Homo sapiens: one gene and its partner. The protein of the gene in region 1 purifies or fractionates together with the protein of each later gene. This does not show direct contact. Each region holds a gene or a part of one and is shown in the gene's direction. Other genes may lie near its edges.

Region 1 (5,068 bases):
CCACCATGAAGATTCTTAACCCAAGTCCCGTTACTCTTCCCAGGACCACTTTCTGTTTGATAAGCCTGTGTCCCCGTTGCTGACTGCAGCAGGAATGGCTCGAGACTGGCCAGATGCTCGTGGAATTTGGTATGAAGCTGCTCATTACCTCTTTTGTCTTCATGCCCTCATAAATGCTTTTTTTCCCTCTATCTCTCCCAATTCTTGCCTTGCCTCTTGATCACTGTCCCTCTCCGGCCCTCAGGCACAACAATGAGAAGAGCTTCCTGATCTGGGTGAATGAGGAGGATCATACACGGGTGATCTCCATGGAGAAGGGTGGTAACATGAAGAGAGTGTTTGAAAGATTCTGCCGAGGCCTCAAAGAGGTTAGAGAAGATTGTGTAGGGGAGCTAGGTGGGAGGACATAAGGAAAACCAAAGAGTAGCATAAATAGATTATGTAATTTATCAACCAACCCAAGACATGTCTGATGGTAAAAAGGACTACCTAGGACTCACTCTAGGACTAAAGGTATAAACCAGCTGGGACCATACTGGGAAAACCAGGACATGTGGTCACACTAAGATTAGGAAAAGAGTGTCAGGAACCTTAGAAAGTGAAGAAGGCAGGTAATGCAAAGAAGGAATAACTGAGATGGCACGTCAGTGCCTGGGATGTGTGCAGTGGGATGGTGAGGTGTGCAGATAAGGAAAACATTCGAGCTTAGATTGATGTTGGCGGGGAGAGGTTGCTGTGTTCATGACTCTAATATAACCACCCAGTTCTGAGACAAGGTAGGCCTTGACTCTGGATTCTATCATTCTTGTTAAAGTATCGGGTCTAGGCTTTAAGTTGAGAGTTCAGAGGGAGACTGGGGAAGGTGGAGGATAGAATGGTTCGAGTTCTAGAATATGTGGCTCTAGATGAGAGGTTGAACTGAATCATCAATCCTACATGGATTGGGTCTCCGTATTCAAGTCTACATTAGAAATCCCCATAAACTCAATTCAATTCTTACTGTATGTTCTCAAACATACAGTTCTATTTTAGGTTTGCAAAGAAAAAGAGCTCCTCTTTTAGATTCTGAGAAGTTTCTACTATTTTTGGCAAGTAATAGATAACATATTCTGACTATGAGTGGGTAGGGAAGTACCTTTAAATTATATGCCTCAGTTTCCTCATCTGTAAAATTGGGATAATGAGATTTTCTACATTTTAGGTTGTTGTGGGGATTAAGTGAAATACAGGTAAAGTACTTGGTCCACAGTAAGTGCTTAATAAGTGTTAAAGTGTTAGCTGCAATATTATTCTGGATGGAAGAGTTTCCCCCCATGTTCAGCACATAAGATATCCCTGGTGGCATGGTTCCTTCTGAACTACAAACAGGATCCCTTTACTCATGTTGGATAGTGGTCTTTGTGATCATCACTCTGCTAGATCCCTTGTCTCTTGAACTCTAATAGTCATCTTCATGACTACATGGTTAATGGAAGCAAAATGCCTTCCCCCTGTCCCCTATTCCTATGAATCTGGCTTTCCTGCTCTGTTTTCATCTTTCTCTGCATTCACACAGGTGCTCCGTTCACAGCTAATAGAACGTTATCTCACCTCTTCCTGGCAAAGCTTACACCTTCATCTTCTGTCTGAAAGGACCCTTCCAAGCTCTAGGCTCATTAGCAAAGCAAAGATAATCGATGCATGCAGACCTCATTGAATAATCAGTCCTCTCTCAGTTCAGTTTACCACCTCTGTTCATTTCCCTAGATCATCCTTAATACACCACGCCTTCGAGTTTTCTTCTTCCACATAAGATATTTTTTCACAATCTCATTATTATGCACATCATAATTTTGCATCATGCATGCATGAAAACAATAACAAACCTTTTTCATTTAAAAAAAGACCAATGTCATTCATTCACAGCCAAGTTTCTATTCTAGACAAATTTCTAGTGTTCTTGTGGGTCTAGCTAAGGGAGGGTCCAGGGTTAATGAAATATCCCTGATTTTTCATTAATAAAAACTTTGTGGACTCAGGTGGAGAGACTTATCCAAGAACGTGGCTGGGAGTTCATGTGGAATGAGCGTTTGGGATACATCTTGACCTGTCCATCTAACCTGGGCACTGGACTTCGGGCAGGAGTGCACATCAAACTGCCCCTGCTAAGCAAAGTAAAGGAGTTGTGGGGTTACAGAGGGGTGTGAGTAAGGAAGGGTGGGTTGTGGATGGGGAGGGAGTGGACCCTTTGGAGAGGAGCCAAACATGTTGTGGCTAAAGGGTCAGAGGACAGGCCAGGCACAGTGGCTCATGCCTCTAATCCCAACACTTGGGAGGCCAAGGCAGGCAGATCATTTGAGCCCAGGAGTTCAAGACCAGCCTGGGCAACCTGGTGAAACCCCATCTCTACTACAAATACAAAAGTTAGCTGGGTGTAGTGGAGGCTGAGGTGAGAGGATCACTTAAGCCTGGGAAGTCGAGGCTTCAGTGAGCTGTGATCACTCCAGCCTGGGTGACAGAGAGAGACCCTGTCTAAAAAAAAAAAAAAAGAAAAAAGGAAAAAAAAAAGTTCAGGAGACAGAGCTCTGAGCAGGTTCAGGGCTCTTTCAGGTAGGACTAGTCTCTGCCTCTATTGACCCTGCTCCCAATCCCTATCTCCTCTCTAGGATAGCCGCTTCCCAAAGATCCTGGAGAACCTAAGACTCCAAAAGCGTGGTACTGGAGGAGTGGACACTGCTGCCACAGGCGGTGTCTTTGATATTTCTAATTTGGACCGACTAGGCAAATCAGAGGTGAGATCCTAAGGGATTAGGATGAGGAGAGGTATAGGTCTGTGGGGGCTGAAATATGGCAGTGAGTGAGCCTCCGGGATGTAACATAATCTGAAATGAAATTCAGGTTGAGTGGGGAGGCAATTGGAAATGAGCAGGCAAGTCAGTCAGTGATAAAGAAAAACTCAGACTGTAGGAAGCAGAGATCAAAGATTAGTGTCCTTCAGGTGGAGCTGGTGCAACTGGTCATCGATGGAGTAAACTATTTGATTGATTGTGAACGGCGTCTGGAGAGAGGCCAGGATATCCGCATCCCCACACCTGTCATCCACACCAAGCATTAACTCCCCATCGCCAGCTGATGACTCAAGATTCCAAGGAGTTCTGCTCATTCTAATGATGGCCCATTCTACTTGCTCTGGACCTGCCCTCGCATCCCCTGCCTCCATCCTAGTAAAGACTCCTTGCTATGCTGCAGCTGTCTGTGTTACTTCTAATGGTGGGGTGAGGAGGGAGCAGCCTTCAGGAAATGAAAAGAGGCAGTGGGATTATTTATGATGGAAAGAGACTCCAGATATGGCAACCCAGGAACACTGATTCTCAGGTGGGTGGAAAGCATTAACATTTTACCCATATTCCTCATCAGCTTCTGAAAATAATCAGGATGCACTTCTGTTTGCACTTTATTCATTATGACTTAAGATTTCTCTCCCCACAATCTCCTTCTACTGTAGAGACAGGCTCATAGCAGGTGGCCAAGGAAGCTGATAGTCAATACCAGGGACCAGGAAGGTCGTGACCAGTCCTGGAGGCCCCAGGCTGTACTTCGACCTATAATAGACAGGGAATGGGAGTAATATCACAACTCAGCTCTCCAGGAGCATTGATACTTGGAAATTAGCGCTCTGCCTGTAGACTCCTTCACTCCAGGGATCTCCCTGGGTGCACTCTAAGAGCCAGACAGCACCAAATTAGGGGTTTGATTCTGGGTCAGGAGATGGAGGATCAAGCTGTGCAGCTGGGAACTCACCTTGCTGTTCTGGGCTCTCCTTTCCCTCATGTTGGGCCCATGCAACTGCTCGTCGCTGCTCAGGACTCAGAAAGGCCATTTGCTCAGGAGTGACAGCCACAGCCTGAGCACTGGCGAGACTAGATAGTTGGATGGGACTAAACACCACCTGAGGGCAGGGGTAGGAATCAGTGCATGCATGTAGTCCCCATTGGGCCCTGGCTCTCCTGTGGTCACCCCAGTCCATTAATACTTACAGCAAATTTAGGAGGAGGGATGACAGAAATGGCAAGAGGAGTAACGCCCTGGATCTGTCCCCGCAGCAGTGCTGAAAGAGCCAGGTCTGGGATCCCAGCTGTTGAAGCAAGTGGCATCCAAACATTGTCTTAGACTGACCTTCCCTCTCTTCAAACCTATAGACCTTCTCTAACTACTCCCAAAGTGCCCTATCATAGACCTTCCCCAATATGTCTCTAGCCCCTTATTTAAACACCCTCTCAGGCCCACACCTGAAGAATTGCAGGGCAGTCTTCCATCCAGTCCACCCATGGTATAGAAACCAAACCAACTTGCACCAGCAGTGGCCCAGCTCCCCACCTGCTATGGTGCCAATTTCAGTGAAGATCTCAGGCCCCCAGTTACTGATTGGGCCAAACCCACCAGGCAGTACAAAGAGGTGGGCCAGAAACTCCAGTTGTTCCTCAGAGCACTGCAGATGCAGGGTGCCCAGGAAGAGAGCTGCTTGGCTGTAGAACAGTGGGAAGGAAGGAAGAAGAATTCGGCTTCAGTGAAAGGGACTGTGGTCATGAGACAAAGGAAGAGATGGCTTCAAATGAGTTCCCTTCCTCCATGGGACTATAACTTCATGATCCTCCTTTCCCCAGCAAGTCCACCTTTACCTGAACACGACCACCCTCAGCCCCTTCACAAATGACCTAAACTCCCAACTGCTGATGTGCTGGAGCTCCTCTGGCCGCAGTCCACAGAGAGTATAACCCAGCGCTGTCAGATGAACGAAGTCCAGGTGGCTCACATGCCGACCACTCTGCCGTAGGAAACTGGAGACCACAATGCGGAGCTGGGGTGGGGGGTGGGAGAAGAGGGGAAGGAGGAAAGTTATGGAGAATTAATGGACAGGGAAGTGATAGGTGTTACTGGGTTATATTCTGTTACTATTAAGACCTAAGGAGTCATGGGGAAGGCTGAGGACTCAGAAAAGAAAAGGAAAGAAAAAGAGGAAGCCTCCAGGAAAAGAGGTAGGAGACAGTATTATGTGTCCAGGGCCTCAGAGTGAATAAATCAAGAGTCC
Region 2 (3,898 bases), on another chromosome or scaffold:
CTGACATGAACTTCCTCCCTCTGGGGCTGGCCTTTTAGCCTAATACATGCCAATGAGACTTGCACCCTCTCTCCTGGTCTGTAAATTTTTTAGTTTTTGGAGACAGGGTCTTGCTCTGTCACCAGGCTGGGGTGCAGTGGTGCGATCTTGGCTCACTGCAACCTCCGCCTCCTGGGTTCAAGCGATTCTCCTGCCTCAGCCTCCCAAGTAGCTGGCATTACAGGCACCTGTCACCATGCCTGGCTAATTTTTGTATTTTTAGTAGAGATGGGGTTTCGCCATGTTGGCCAGGCTGGTCTCGAACTCCTGACTTCAAGTGATCCACCTGCCTTGGCCTCCCAAAGCACTGGGATTACAGGCGTGAACCACCGTGCTGGGCCTGGCCTGTAATTTTTATCCCAACTCAGTTATAATGTATCATTCAATGTTGTATATCAGGGGTCAGGAAACCAGGCCCATAGACCAAATGTAGCCTGCTACCTGTTTTAGCACAGCGCCCATGCCAAGAATAGTGTTTACCTCTTTAAATAGTTAGGGGGAAAAAAATCAAAAGAAGAATAATAGTTTGTGACGTGAAAATTATATAGCAGTCAGATTTCAGTGTCCATAAATTTTTATTGGAACACAGCCACCCCCATTCATCTGTGCATTGGCTATGGCTGTCCATAAATAAAGTTTTATTGGAACACAGCCACCCCCATTCATCTGTGCATTGGCTGTGGCTGCTTTCACACTATGAAGACAGTGGAGTCACTGCAGCCTGCAAAGCCTAGAATATTTACTATCTGGCCCTTTACAGAAAAAGTTTGCCGACTCCCGCTGTAGAGACGCCTGGGTAAATTAAAGATGAGTATCGTGTATACACTTAAAGAGTAAAAGATGAGCTGGGCGCAGTGGCTTACACCTGTAATCCCACCACTTTGGGAGGCCAAGGCAGACAGATCACTTGAAGCCAGGAGTTCAAGACCAGCCTGGCCAACATGGCAAAACCCCGTCTCTACTAAAAATGCAAAAATTAGCCGGACATGGTGGCTCACACCTGTAATCCCAGCTACTCTGGGAGCTGAGGCATGACTGGCTTGAACCTGGGAGGTGGGGGTTGCAGTGGGCCGAGATCACGCCACTGCCCTCCAGCCTGGGCAACAGAGTGAGACCCTATCTCAAAAAAAAAAAAAGAAAAAAGAAAAAAGAAATGCGAAGTCTACAGTGAAGAAGGAAGAAGTGAAGAACACATCCGCTTTGGGAGTAGCCAGTGATGTGGGAAACTGCCTTGCCACTCCCAGAGGGCAGTATCTTGTGGCTGCAGGGTTTGCTGTGTTTTCTGGAAACAGACTTTGCTCTTGTGCTCTGTCCTTCCCATCCCTCTCAACTTGGGGTCCTGAATTTTGCTCCAGGACTTACACCAGAGGATCGATAAGTTCCGTTTCACCCCACCTTTGGAGGACAGCTGCTTCCACTATGGCTTCAACTCCAACTACCTGAAGAAAGTCATCTCCTACTGGCGGAATGAATTTGACTGGAAGAAGCAGGTGGAGATTCTCAACAGATACCCTCACTTCAAGACTAAGATTGAAGGTATGTTTGCAAAACGCCAGCCAGAGAGGGATGTATGTCATGAGAACAGCCTTCTTCCACAATGTGACTTACAGTCAGATAAAGTTGGAGAGATTCAGAACCCAATTATAGGTGACTGAGATGTACTTATACGTTGTAACCTTACTAAATGCAAAAATATTGCAGTCACAACAAATCTGTCCATCTTTAGAGCTAGGCAGGAACACATACATGCAATTTAAAAACCAAAGAAATGCACCATCCAGTCCAATGATGTGGCAATCTTTGAGAGGAAGGATGGAGATGAGATTTAGACCCAGGCCAAGTGGGGTGGCTCAGAACTGTAATCCCAGCACTTTGGGAGGCTGAGGTGGGTAGATCACGAGGTCAAGAGTTCAAGCAGCCTGGCCAAGATGGTGAAATCCCATCTCTACTAGAAATACAAAAAATAGCCAGGTGTGTTGGCAGGCAGCTGTAATCCCAGCTACTCTGGAGGCTGAAGCAGAGAATTGCTTGAAGCCAGGAGGCGGAGGTTGCAGTGAGCCAAGATCGCGCCACTGCACTCCAGCCTGGGCTCCATCTCAAAGAAAGAAAAGACTCTGCTCTCAGTTCTTTTGGATCTATACTCAGAAGTGGACTTGTTGGATCATACGGTAATTCTGCGTTTAATTTTCTGAGGAACCGCCATACTGCGTTCCGCAGCAGCTGCACCATTTTACTTTCCCACCCAACAATGCCTCAGAATCCCGATTCTCCAAATCCTTGCCAATATTTTTTTCCTTTCTTTTTTTCGGTAATGGTCATCCTAATGGGTATGAAATGGTATCACATTGTGGTTTTGAGTTGCATTTTCCTAATGATTACTGATGTTGAGCATTTTTTATGCGGTACTTATTGGATTCTTTGTAATTTCTCCGAAGAAATGTCTGTTCATGTCTTTTGTCCATTTTTTGGGTGTTTTATTAGGGTTTAGGAGTTCTCTATATATTCTGAATAAAATCTCTTATATTTGCAAATGTTTTCTCCCACTCTGTGGGTTGCCATACAATTAATCTTTTTCAGAGACAAGGTCTTGCTGTGTTGCTCAGGCTGGAGTGCAGCGGCTATTCACAGGCGTGATCATGGCTCACCACAGCCTCGAACTCCTGGGCTCAAGCAATCCTCTCGCCTCAGACCTCCTGAATAGCTGGTACTATAGGCGAGCACCACTGTGCCCAGCTTGTTAATTTTTTATATTGAAGAAATTGTACATGTTAGGAATCTTATTTTTAATGTTTTAAGATAATTTGGCCTTTTCAAGGAACAGTGAAGATTTTAATTTGTTAAAATTCTAGGAATTACTTAAAGTGTATGAAAGACATGTTGGTCAGTCAGATAAACTAAAGTTCCTAAAAAAAGGAAATTGAAATTATAGTGTTAACTGGGTGTGGTGGCATGCACCTGTAGTCCCAGCTACTCAGGAGGCTGAGGCAGGAGGATTGCTTGAGCCCAGGAATTCAAGGCTGCAGTGAGCTACAAGGACACCACTGCACTGGGTGACAGATCAAGACCCCATCTCTTAAAAAAAGAGAGAGAGGCTGGGCACGGTGGCGCACGCCTGTAATCCCAGCACTTTGGGAGGCTGAGGCAGGTGGATCACGAGGTCAGGAGGTTGAGACCATCGTAGCTAACACGGTGAAATCCTGTCTCTAATAAAAATACAAAAAATTAGCCAGGTGTGGTGGCGGGTGCCTGTAGTCCCAGCTACTCGGGAGGATGAGGCAGGAGAATGGCGTGAACCCAGGAGATGGAGCTTGTGGTGAGCTGAGATCACACCACTGCACTCCAGCCTGGGCGACAGAATGAGACTCTGTCTTTAAAAAAAAAAAAAAAAAACAGGCTGGGCGCCGTGGCTCACGCCTGTAATCCCAGCACTTTGGGAGGTCAAGGCGGGCAGATCACAAGGTCAGGAGATCGAGACCATCCTGGTCTAACTTGGTGAAACCCCGTCTCTACTAAAAATACAAAAAATTAGCCGGGCGTGGTGGCAGGCGCCTGTGGTCCCAGCTACTTGGGAGGCTGAGGCAGAAGAATAGCGTGAACCCGGAAGGCGGAGCTTGCAGTGAGCCCAGATTGCGCCACTGCACTCCAGCCTGGGTGACAGGGCAAGACTCTGTCTCAAAAAAAAAAAAAAGAAAAAAAAAAAAAGCCGGGTGCGGTGGCTCACACCTGTAATCCTAGCACTGTGGGAGGCCGAGGCGGGTGGATCCCAAGGTCAAGAGATCGAGACCATCCTGGCCAACATGGTGAAACCCCGTCTCTACTAAAAATACAAAAATTAGCTGGGCATGGTGGCACGTGCCTG

The links. Proteins that work in one complex are often made in the same cells at the same time.
Region 2: the proteins of CKMT1A (region 1) and EPHX1 fractionate together in Homo sapiens (co-fractionation; one large-scale study listed by BioGRID). This does not show direct contact.

The regions. Positions count from the first base shown.
Region 1 is NC_000015.10:43,695,996-43,701,063, forward strand, and holds the end of CKMT1A (creatine kinase U-type, mitochondrial isoform 1 precursor), read left to right. Parts: intron 1-43; coding exon 44-129; exon of another isoform or gene 130-133; intron 134-244; coding exon 245-368; intron 369-2,018; coding exon 2,019-2,153; intron 2,154-2,645; coding exon 2,646-2,771; intron 2,772-2,977; coding exon 2,978-3,094; 3' UTR 3,095-3,227; downstream 3,228-5,068. UniProt on the Homo sapiens protein: Reversibly catalyzes the transfer of phosphate between ATP and various phosphogens (e.g. creatine phosphate).
Region 2 is NC_000001.11:225,830,385-225,834,282, forward strand, and holds part of EPHX1 (epoxide hydrolase 1), read left to right. Parts: intron 1-1,394; coding exon 1,395-1,575; intron 1,576-3,898. UniProt on the Homo sapiens protein: Biotransformation enzyme that catalyzes the hydrolysis of arene and aliphatic epoxides to less reactive and more water soluble dihydrodiols by the trans addition of water.